Linked DNA regions of Homo sapiens. The protein of the gene in region 1 binds, or shares a complex with, the protein of each later gene. Each region holds a gene or a part of one and is shown in the gene's direction. Other genes may lie near its edges.

Region 1 (2,758 bases):
AAATTGCATACTTGCCTTGGAGGATTGTCTTGGAGGATTATCTTAATGCATACAGAATGCTTGGAACTGTGCTTAACCCACAGTGAGTGCTCAGAACTTAGCCATTGTTGTTATCGTGGGATAACAGTAAAGAGTGCCGAGATTTCGGATTGAGGGAAATAACATTGTACTCTGGGAGATAGGGCAGAAGCTCAGTATGTGGTGGATGAGAACTAGGGTAGGTAAATTTCCCTTTGAGCAATTAAATGTCTATAATTACTTCAACCTTGTGGGGATGAAGTATTGAACACTTACTGTACCTAAAGCAAACTGCTAGGTAATAAGGATTACAACAATTGCTAAGCCATGATTTGTATCCTTGAATTGCTTAAAATATAATGTGAGTTAAGATATTAAAAAAAAAGACTAATACAGTAATTATAAGTATTATAAGAATTGTGCAAACGAGCTAGAAGAACTGAAAGGAGGAAAAAATCATTTCTGAGTTAATCAGGGACACTTCAAAAGAGCTTTTCTGTTTTATCTGAATCTTAATAGATTGATAGATTAGATGTATGTCTTACTGACTTCTCTTCCTCTTTTTTTTCTTTTTCTTTTCTACAGTACTTTACCTCGTGTGGGCCTTTATTCCTGAATCTTGGCTAAACTCTTTAGGTTTAACCTATTGGCCTCAAAAGTAAGTTTAATATATTTCTTAAATGAGGATATAATTAATGCTGTTTTGAGGAGTCATATCATTTCTTAAACCTACCCAAATCTTAAATATTTGTTCTCTTAAAATTCATGAATAGCCATATAGAAATTGAAAGCTTTTTAAAGATCGCTATTGATACATCTCTAATTAAAGATGGTAGCATGAACACACATGTTTATCTCCATCCATTTCCTCCAAAAATCTTGTTAAAATGACCCTACAGGAAAAAAAAAAAAAACTGAAGATACAAACCACAGAAACAATAGTATAGCAGAAAAGAGATATCAACCACATTTTGGAAAGTGGATTGTGATAGGTGAGAGGTAACTGCCTTTGTTTCTGTGATTTTCACGTTGCTGAAGTAGGGAAGCCAGCAAGAATATTTGTGCCTTAGAACTCCAGAATAGCTCAGACATTGGGGTACCAGGTAGCTCTTTAATTCTGGGTTGAACTGAAAACATGTTTAAAGACCATATGAAGTCTTCAGCCTTCAAATCTCCCTCAGCCCTCAAAGCTGGGAGGCCTGCCCTGCCCTCCCCTGCAGAAAACAGGAGTTTTACTCTCTGGCAAGGTTAAGTAAGAGTCTCTAGCATGGGGGCCACTAAGTCTGAGTGTGGGAATGCGGCATCTTACTGAAAACAGGGAAGTAAGTGAAAATCTACATGGCTTAATGAGAAGATTTACCTCCTGCTCCATCTTCCCTCTTGGGGCTTCGAGGCTTATATCACCCTACTGCTCACAGAAAAAGATAGATAGTTCTTTCCTGAGGAAGCTGACCAGCCCGAGAGAAAGGATCTATAATTTCTGACATTTAGAGGACCCCAGTGAAGTGGCCAAGTCTCTCAGAGTGAGGCTCACCAGTTGACCATCCCTGCCCACATACACATAGTGCTTCCAACTCACTTGTTAGCACTTCATTTTTAAATATGAATGGACTACTCTAAGTTACCAGACATTAAAAGAAAGCCTCTAGCATGAAATGAAAAAGCAGAAAATTAAAGGGAATTTGAAGGAAATAGAGATAATGCAGGAAACAGAAAAAAAAATTTAAATAACATAAAATTCTCAGAGGTAAGAAACAATTATAACTATGAAACAAGAACAGAATGCTATGCAAACAGGAAATTACTGTATTTGGAAATTGTAAACATGATAACCAAAATTAAAATTTTAATTGAAAGACTGGAAAATAAAACAAAGGTAATCTCTAGAAGTTAGAACAAAAAAAAATGAAAATATAAGAAAGTATAATCGTTAAAAATTCAAACTATTAGAAGTTCCAGAAAGAGAAAATAATAGAGAACAAATCATTTAAAAAAAAAAAAACATCTGGCCAACATCTCAAGACCCCATTTCTACAAAAAAATTAAAAATTAGCCAGGTGTGGTGGTGTGTGCCTATAGTCCCAGCTACTTGCAGGGCTGAAGTGAGCTCAGCAGATTGAGGCTAGTGATCTGTGATCATGCCGTTGCACTCCAGCCTGGGTGACAGAGGGAAATGCTTTCTCAAAAAGAAAAAAAAAACACTCAATGAAAAATAGCACTCCATGTACATAATGATACTGAGAGGCATAATAGAGTCCTATCAGAGAATTTGAGGCTCTGGTATTGGTGGATTCCTGGGAAACCAAGTGAACAGACAAAAAGATGTAATTATTCCAGAAAAAAAAAAGTTGTACAAGAAAATATATAATAATAATGTACTAAGATCCTCAGTTGCAAAATTGTTTATGTAGGTACAATTATTTCTAAAACCTGCTGCTATAATGAGAAATTGCAATGTAAGTATAGAAGAGGATAGGAGGAGGTTAATTCCTTATCTCCATATTAGGAAGCCTAGAGAAAATGTCTGTAATGGAAAAAAATGAGGAAATAGTAATATGAGCATGTTTTGTAGCAATGAGGAGGTAAGTACCAGAAGACAGCTCAAGTGCTCAAAGCATTTCTTTTTGGAGAGTGAGACCCCAGGGTTGGGATGGTGGGATAGAGGACTGCAGTTTTTCACTGTAAGCCTTGTGGAACTATTTGTCTCTTATGTACACATATTACTTTATAAAATTTAAAT
Region 2 (3,659 bases), on another chromosome or scaffold:
CAAGGATATTGTCATCAATGAGGCCATTTACATGGTAAGTATTTAAAAGGTAAGTATTACAGGCCTCTCTGGAGGAGGTAGCCAGCCCATGGGATGTTCCCAGATTTAAACTAAAACCGTAAAAGTGAGACTTATATTTAAAAGGTAAATCTCTTTATTTTTAAAGAGATGCAGCAGGTTTTCATGGATAGGGAATTAGCATTTCAACTTTATCTTCAAGACCAACTTCAAAATTATCACTGGCATTTTTTCCTTCTCTTTCTATCTTTTTTCTTTTTTTTTTTTTGAGACAGGGTCTCACTCTGTTGCCCAGGCTGGAGTGCAGTGGCTCGATCACAGCTCACTGCAGCCTCAACTTCCCAGGCTCAAGCCATTCTCCCACCTCAGCCTCCTGAGTAGCTGGGACTACAGGCATGCACCACCATGCTTGGCTCGTTTTTTCTATGTTTTGCAGAGATGCAGTCTCACTATGTTGCCTAGGCTGGTCTTGAATTCCTGGGCTCAAGCCATCCTCCTGCTGTGGCCTCCCCAAGTGTTCAGTTTACAGGTTTGAGCCACTACGCCTGGCCCTGTCTTTTTTCATTTAAAGAATGAGAATATACTTTTCTTCCACTTCAAAAGCTATCAAGTGTTCTACTACTTAAACATTTGTGAAAAAGTGTTGAGCCTTCCCTTAGAAAAATAGAATGTGGCCAGGTGTGGTGGCTCACGCCTGTAATCCCAGCACTTTGGGAGGCCAAGGCAGGCGGATCACCTAAGGTCGGGAGTTCCAGACCAGCCTGACCAACATGGTGAAACCCCATCTCTACTAAAAATACAAAAAATTAGCCGGGCATGGTGGCGAGCGCCTGTAATCCCAGCTACTTGGGAGGCTGAGGCAGGAGAATCGCTTGAACCTGGGAGGTAGAGGTTGCAGTGAGCCGAGATTGCGCCACTGCACTGCAGCTTGGGCAACAGAGAGAGACTCTGTCTCAAAAATAAATAAATAAAGGAAAAAGAAAAAAAGAATGCAAAATGAGTTTCACTTAGACTTTGCTATTTGATTTATTTTCTTACAGCAGAAGGTGATTTACTACCTCTGCATCTTATTGAAAGATCCAGTGGAACCACATGGGATATCCCAAGTAGTACCCGTCTTCCAGGTGAGCATAGAATACTTTTACCATTCTCCAATTACTCCTCAACCTTTTCATTAGGAATGTAAATTCCTTTTGTCAGAGTATTGGAAGATACCTGACAGCTGTTTTGAGTGATAATTAGGATTTCAGTTATTTGAGAAGTTCCTCTCTGAGGCAAATGTATTCCTTAAAAATATTCATGCACATTTTATTTTATTTTAGAGACAGAGTCTCACTTTGTCACCTAGGCTGGAGTGCAGTGACAATCACCACTCATTGCAGCCTCCACCTCCCAGGCTCAAGAAATCCTCCTGCCTCAGCCTCCTGAGAACTTGGGACTACAGGTGTGCACCATCTCGCCTGGCTAATTTTTTTTTTTTATTTTTAGTAGAGATGAGGTCTTGCCATGTTGCCTAGGCTGATCTTGAACTCCTGAGTTCAAGCAATTCTCCTGCCTCAGCCTCCCAAAGTGTTGGGATTACAAGCATGAGCCAGCATACCTGGCCTCATGCACATTTTAAAGAACACAATCAAATATATAGCAACTTCTGCCTATAAATCACCATTCATCTACTTTGACTCTGTCAGTCTACTACTGTACACTTTTTTTAGATAGAGGTAATTGATCTTACATTGTACACTATTGTGTGTCTTGCTTTGTAAATAATTTAATATGTATGTATCCTACAAAGGCCATTATATTTATTATTTTAAATAATTGTATAATATATTGAAATATCAGTTTATTTAGCCACTCTTGCCAGCTTTTAAAATCATGCCTGGGTTTTTTTGTTTTGCTCTTACAAAAAAAAAAAAACACTTATCAGCTGGTGCAGTGGCTCATGCCTGTAATCCCAACACTGTGGGGGAGGCTGAGGCAGGCAGATCACTTGAGCTCAGGAGTTCGAGACCAGCCTGGGCAACATGGTAAAACCCCCATCTCTACAAAAAATACCAAAATTAGCTGAGCATGGTGGTGCACATCTGTGGTCCCAGCTACTGGGGAAGCTGAGGTGGGAGGATTGCTTGAGCCCAGGAGGTCAAGGCTGCAGTGAGCTTTGATCATGGCACTGTATTCAGCCTGGGTGACAAGAGACCCCATCTCAAAAAACAAAAATTATACAAACATAATAAATTACAAAATAATAAATTTAGAGGTAGGTATTTATGCATGTATTTATGTATACAGTTAACCCTGCCTCACTGACCTTTTTCACAAAGGATTTAAGATAAGCCAAAAATTATTTTGCATTGTAATTCAAAATTATTTTATTAAAGCTTATGAATAGTTTTATAGATTTCTAGTGTTTAAGATCGGGCTCCAGAGATTGGACAACTTTATCATACTTTGGGGATTTTGTACTTCTTTTTCTACCATCCTGGCTAATAGTGGATTTAGCTTTTTTAGCTTAATATGTAGGTAAAGGCATTAAATTTGTATCTCTTTAAATGATAGGCTTTTCATATTTCCTTGTATTACCTATCAGTATTTCCTCTTACTTTAAACTACCTATCTTCTCTATTAGTCAAGTAGAATCTGAATATTATGTATTTGTATCTATTTTTATATATTTTTAACAATTCTTTATATATTTTAGGTAGTGCACTTTTATTAAATATACTTTCACATATATTTTTTCCATTCTGTGGCTTTTCTTTTAATTTTGGTTATTACATTTCATTGTGTAAAACATTTTTCAATATTTACATATTAAACTGCACTTCTTGTGTTTGAGGGCTGTTTTACAACTTGTGACATTTCTCAAGGGTCCATTTTGTTTTTCCTCTTGCTTATTCTTAGAGATGGAGTTCATGAAATTTAGACAGATTAAAAAGCTATCATTTGATCTCCCACCTCGCATAGTTCACAAGCTGTGCTGTAAGCCTAGCTGGGACTCTTTCCAGCAAGGTGTGCTGAGGCCTAAACTTCTTAACTCCATGAGCTCACTGCTGTGTCATTTATACCCCTTGATGTGGGTGAGAGATTGAAGTTGCATGTGGTCCCGGCACCATGGCTCAAGCCTGTAATCCCAGCACTTTGGGAAGCCGAGGTGGGCAGATCACTTAAGGCCAGGAGTTCAAGAGCAGCCTGGCCAACATGGTGAAACCCTGTCTCTACTAAAAATACAAAAATTAGTTGGGCATGGTGGTTCGTGCCTGTAGTCCTAGCTACTTGGGAGGCTGAGGCACAAGAATCATTTGAACCCGGGATGCAGAGGTTTCAGTGAGCCGAGATTGTGCCACTGGGCGTGGTGGCGAGCACCTGTAATCCCAGCTACTCGGGAGGCTGAAGCAGGAGAATCACTTGAACCTGGGAGGCGGAGGTTGCAGTGAGCCGAGATTGCGCCACTGCACTCCAGCCTGGGCAACAGAGCAAAACTCTGTCTCAAAAAAAAAAAAAAAAAAAAATTTGCAAGTGGATGCAGCACCACTGCACTCCCTTATATTCTCACCTTGACTCCGCATTTCTCCCCTTTGGAATTCAGAGTGCCAAGCCCCGGCTGGACTGCTTGATTGAAGTATACAGGAGCTGCCAGGAGA
Region 3 (2,480 bases), on another chromosome or scaffold:
GGTGGCCACGGCCAGCAGCACCCGGGTGCCCCTCAGAGAGGAAGGTACCTGCAGCCTCTGCTCATGTGTGGGGCCAGCCCCCACGCGTCCCCTCGTCAGCCGCTTGCTATCCTTGCAGCTGGCGTGAAGTTCCGTGTCCTCCGGCACGAGGCCGGCAGGCCCCTCCGCCTCCTGATGCAGGTGAGGCCCCTTGTGGCCAGGACGCCCCTACGCTGCTGCCCCTGTTCTGGGACGGTGGGGTCAGCTGGGTGTAGTGTCTGGGTGGCACCACGCCAGCCTGCGATGAGGTACAGGGAGGGCCCAGTGGAGCTGAGGGGGAAGGCCCACGCGGGACCCCCTCCCCCTTACCCCCAGGGCCTGAGGACACTGGTGTGGTCCTGTGGATGGGGCCCATTCTGCCCTGTGTCGGAGGCGCCCTTGGCTGGCTGGGGCTGCCCTGGGCCCCACAGGGCTCAAGTTCTGGGTGGAACAGAACCGACTGAGTGAGTCCTGGGGTGGGGTGTGCGTCCCTGTGGCACGGCCCCTCAGAGTTGGGCAGCCCCGAGGGGAGATGCAGCTTCTGCCTCCCCCCAGCGCTCCCTTCTGGCTGCAGGCTCACTTGCCTCCTTGGGAACTGGGACTGGCTTCTCCCACAGGCAAGGGAATGTCTGAGACAGCACTGGCCCTGCCTCACAACTGCCCGCCCCCACCCTCTCTCTGCAGACGGGGTTGGAGCTCAGACCACCCCACTGACCGCTGCCCTTGTCCTTCCAGATAAACCCACTGCCCTACAGCCGCGTGGTGCACACCTACCGCCTCCCCAGCTGTGGCTGCCACCCCAAGCACTCCTGGGGCGCCCTGTGCCGCAAGCTGTTCCTTGGGGAGCTCATCTACCCCTGGAGGCAGAGAGGGGACAAGCAGGACTGAGGGAACTGCTGGCTCGCCTGGCACCACCACACGGCCACAGCCAGCCATCTGCTCTGCCAGGGTGGCACCAGCTCAGCTGGCGCATGTCCTGTGCTTTGTGGACGCTGCTGTGTGCTCCTGAACACGGCAGGCCCTGCTATCACACCTTGGGCTTGGAGGTCATTGGGAGTGAGCAGATGTGGGGGTGGCCAGCCAGGCTGGCCGCACTCCATCACTGGCACTGCCTGCCTTGGGACCCGCTTCCCACCTGCTGCGGTCACCATGGTGGCGAGCACAGCAACCCCAGGTGTCCAGAGCACTGCCCCATGCCCACCCTGTGTACCCAGGTCCAGAGGGTCCGTCCACCACAGCAGCCCCAGGTGGAGGGCTGGTCTCCCTGGGGGCTCCCCAGTGGCTCTGCCCTGGCTGTGGGGGTGGAGGGACCTTGCCAGGATGAACCCCCCAGTCCCAGGCACCCTCTAGCTCCCTCAGCCGAACAGCACCCTGCATCTGGGGGATTGAAGCAGTCGCTGACCCCCGTCCCCAGCGGGCCCGGGCCCTCACTCCCTGAACCACACGGGGTTTATTTGCGGATGTTCCCTGGAGAGGTCGCTTTGTGAAGAAACCATCAGCAGGCTGTGAGCATCGCCAGGCTGCTGTGGGGGCGGGAGCAGCCTCAGTGTCAAGGGCCCGCCCACTGACCCAGCCGTACCTATTCGTCCACGGTGCCCCGTAGCAGCAGGTCCTGCGGCCAAATCTGTCTCCCTTCATGGGCCTCCCAGGGAAGGAGGAAGCCCTGCTGTGCAGACACCTCTGTGGCCCCCCAGGAGTGTGAGTGGCCTGGGGAGGGGGCCGTGGCACTGAGGCCGAAAGTGCCTGCCAGACGGCACGGTCTGGGTGCGGGTGTTCCCTGTGAGCCCGAGTCCGCTTCAGGAGGGGAGCCTGCAGGTGCCGGCTGGTGAGGGGATGACGCGCTGTGGGTGGGAGGAGGCAGCGCCCATCTCAGCAGCACCAGGACTGCCTGGGACTCCCTGGCAACCCAGCACCGGGGAAGCCGTCAGCTGCTGTGACAATAAAACCTGCCCCGTGTCTGGAGCGCAGGCTCGGTCCCGGGTCCATGTGCAGCGCGGGTCCAGGGAAGCTCTGGGGGGGGGGTGTGTGGACGCTACTCGAGGGACTTGGGCTGCCTCACGTGGGTCTGCCCTGCAGAGTCTACACCGGCCTCCTGCTGGAGGCCCTGACGACGGCTGATGGGACGGGCTCACAGGCCCTGGGCCCTTGAGGACTTTGGTGTAGGCAGGTGAACCCGGGCCGCCCACCCTGGGGGCCGCCCACCCTGGGGTCGTGGCCTTGCCTCGACATAGATGGTGCAGGGGTGTAGGCCTCCAGGGGTGGGGCGAGCAGCTCCTGCTCTGAATCTGTGGACTCCATGTGGGGTGGGCCCCTCGTGGGTCCTGGCCCAGTACAGCCTGCGACTGCCACAGCTGCTAAGAATGGTCTCTGTCGCCTGCAGTGCTGGGGGCCCAGCTGGCGGGCCCCACAGCCCGTTCCCAGCCCGAAGTGTACAGGCCTCCATCCAACCTGGACTTCCAGGC

What was found.
Region 2: PIGP (region 1) and PIGH share a complex: the UniProt entries of both Homo sapiens proteins name them as parts of the glycosylphosphatidylinositol-N-acetylglucosaminyltransferase (GPI-GnT) complex.
Region 3: PIGP (region 1) and PIGQ share a complex: the UniProt entries of both Homo sapiens proteins name them as parts of the glycosylphosphatidylinositol-N-acetylglucosaminyltransferase (GPI-GnT) complex.

The regions. Positions count from the first base shown.
Region 1 is NC_000021.9:37,067,470-37,070,227, reverse strand, and holds part of PIGP (phosphatidylinositol N-acetylglucosaminyltransferase subunit P), read left to right. Parts: intron 1-603; coding exon 604-676; intron 677-2,758. UniProt on the Homo sapiens protein: Part of the glycosylphosphatidylinositol-N-acetylglucosaminyltransferase (GPI-GnT) complex that catalyzes the transfer of N-acetylglucosamine from UDP-N-acetylglucosamine to phosphatidylinositol and participates in the first step of GPI biosynthesis.
Region 2 is NC_000014.9:67,590,118-67,593,776, reverse strand, and holds part of PIGH (phosphatidylinositol N-acetylglucosaminyltransferase subunit H), read left to right. Parts: coding exon 1-34; intron 35-1,058; coding exon 1,059-1,142; intron 1,143-1,340; coding exon of another isoform or gene 1,341-1,462; intron 1,463-3,604; coding exon 3,605-3,659. UniProt on the Homo sapiens protein: Part of the glycosylphosphatidylinositol-N-acetylglucosaminyltransferase (GPI-GnT) complex that catalyzes the transfer of N-acetylglucosamine from UDP-N-acetylglucosamine to phosphatidylinositol and participates in the first step of GPI biosynthesis.
Region 3 is NC_000016.10:582,130-584,609, forward strand, and holds the end of PIGQ (phosphatidylinositol N-acetylglucosaminyltransferase subunit Q), read left to right. Parts: intron 1-118; coding exon 119-180; intron 181-753; coding exon 754-906; coding exon of another isoform or gene 907-1,505; 3' UTR 1,506-1,980; downstream 1,981-2,480. UniProt on the Homo sapiens protein: Part of the glycosylphosphatidylinositol-N-acetylglucosaminyltransferase (GPI-GnT) complex that catalyzes the transfer of N-acetylglucosamine from UDP-N-acetylglucosamine to phosphatidylinositol and participates in the first step of GPI biosynthesis.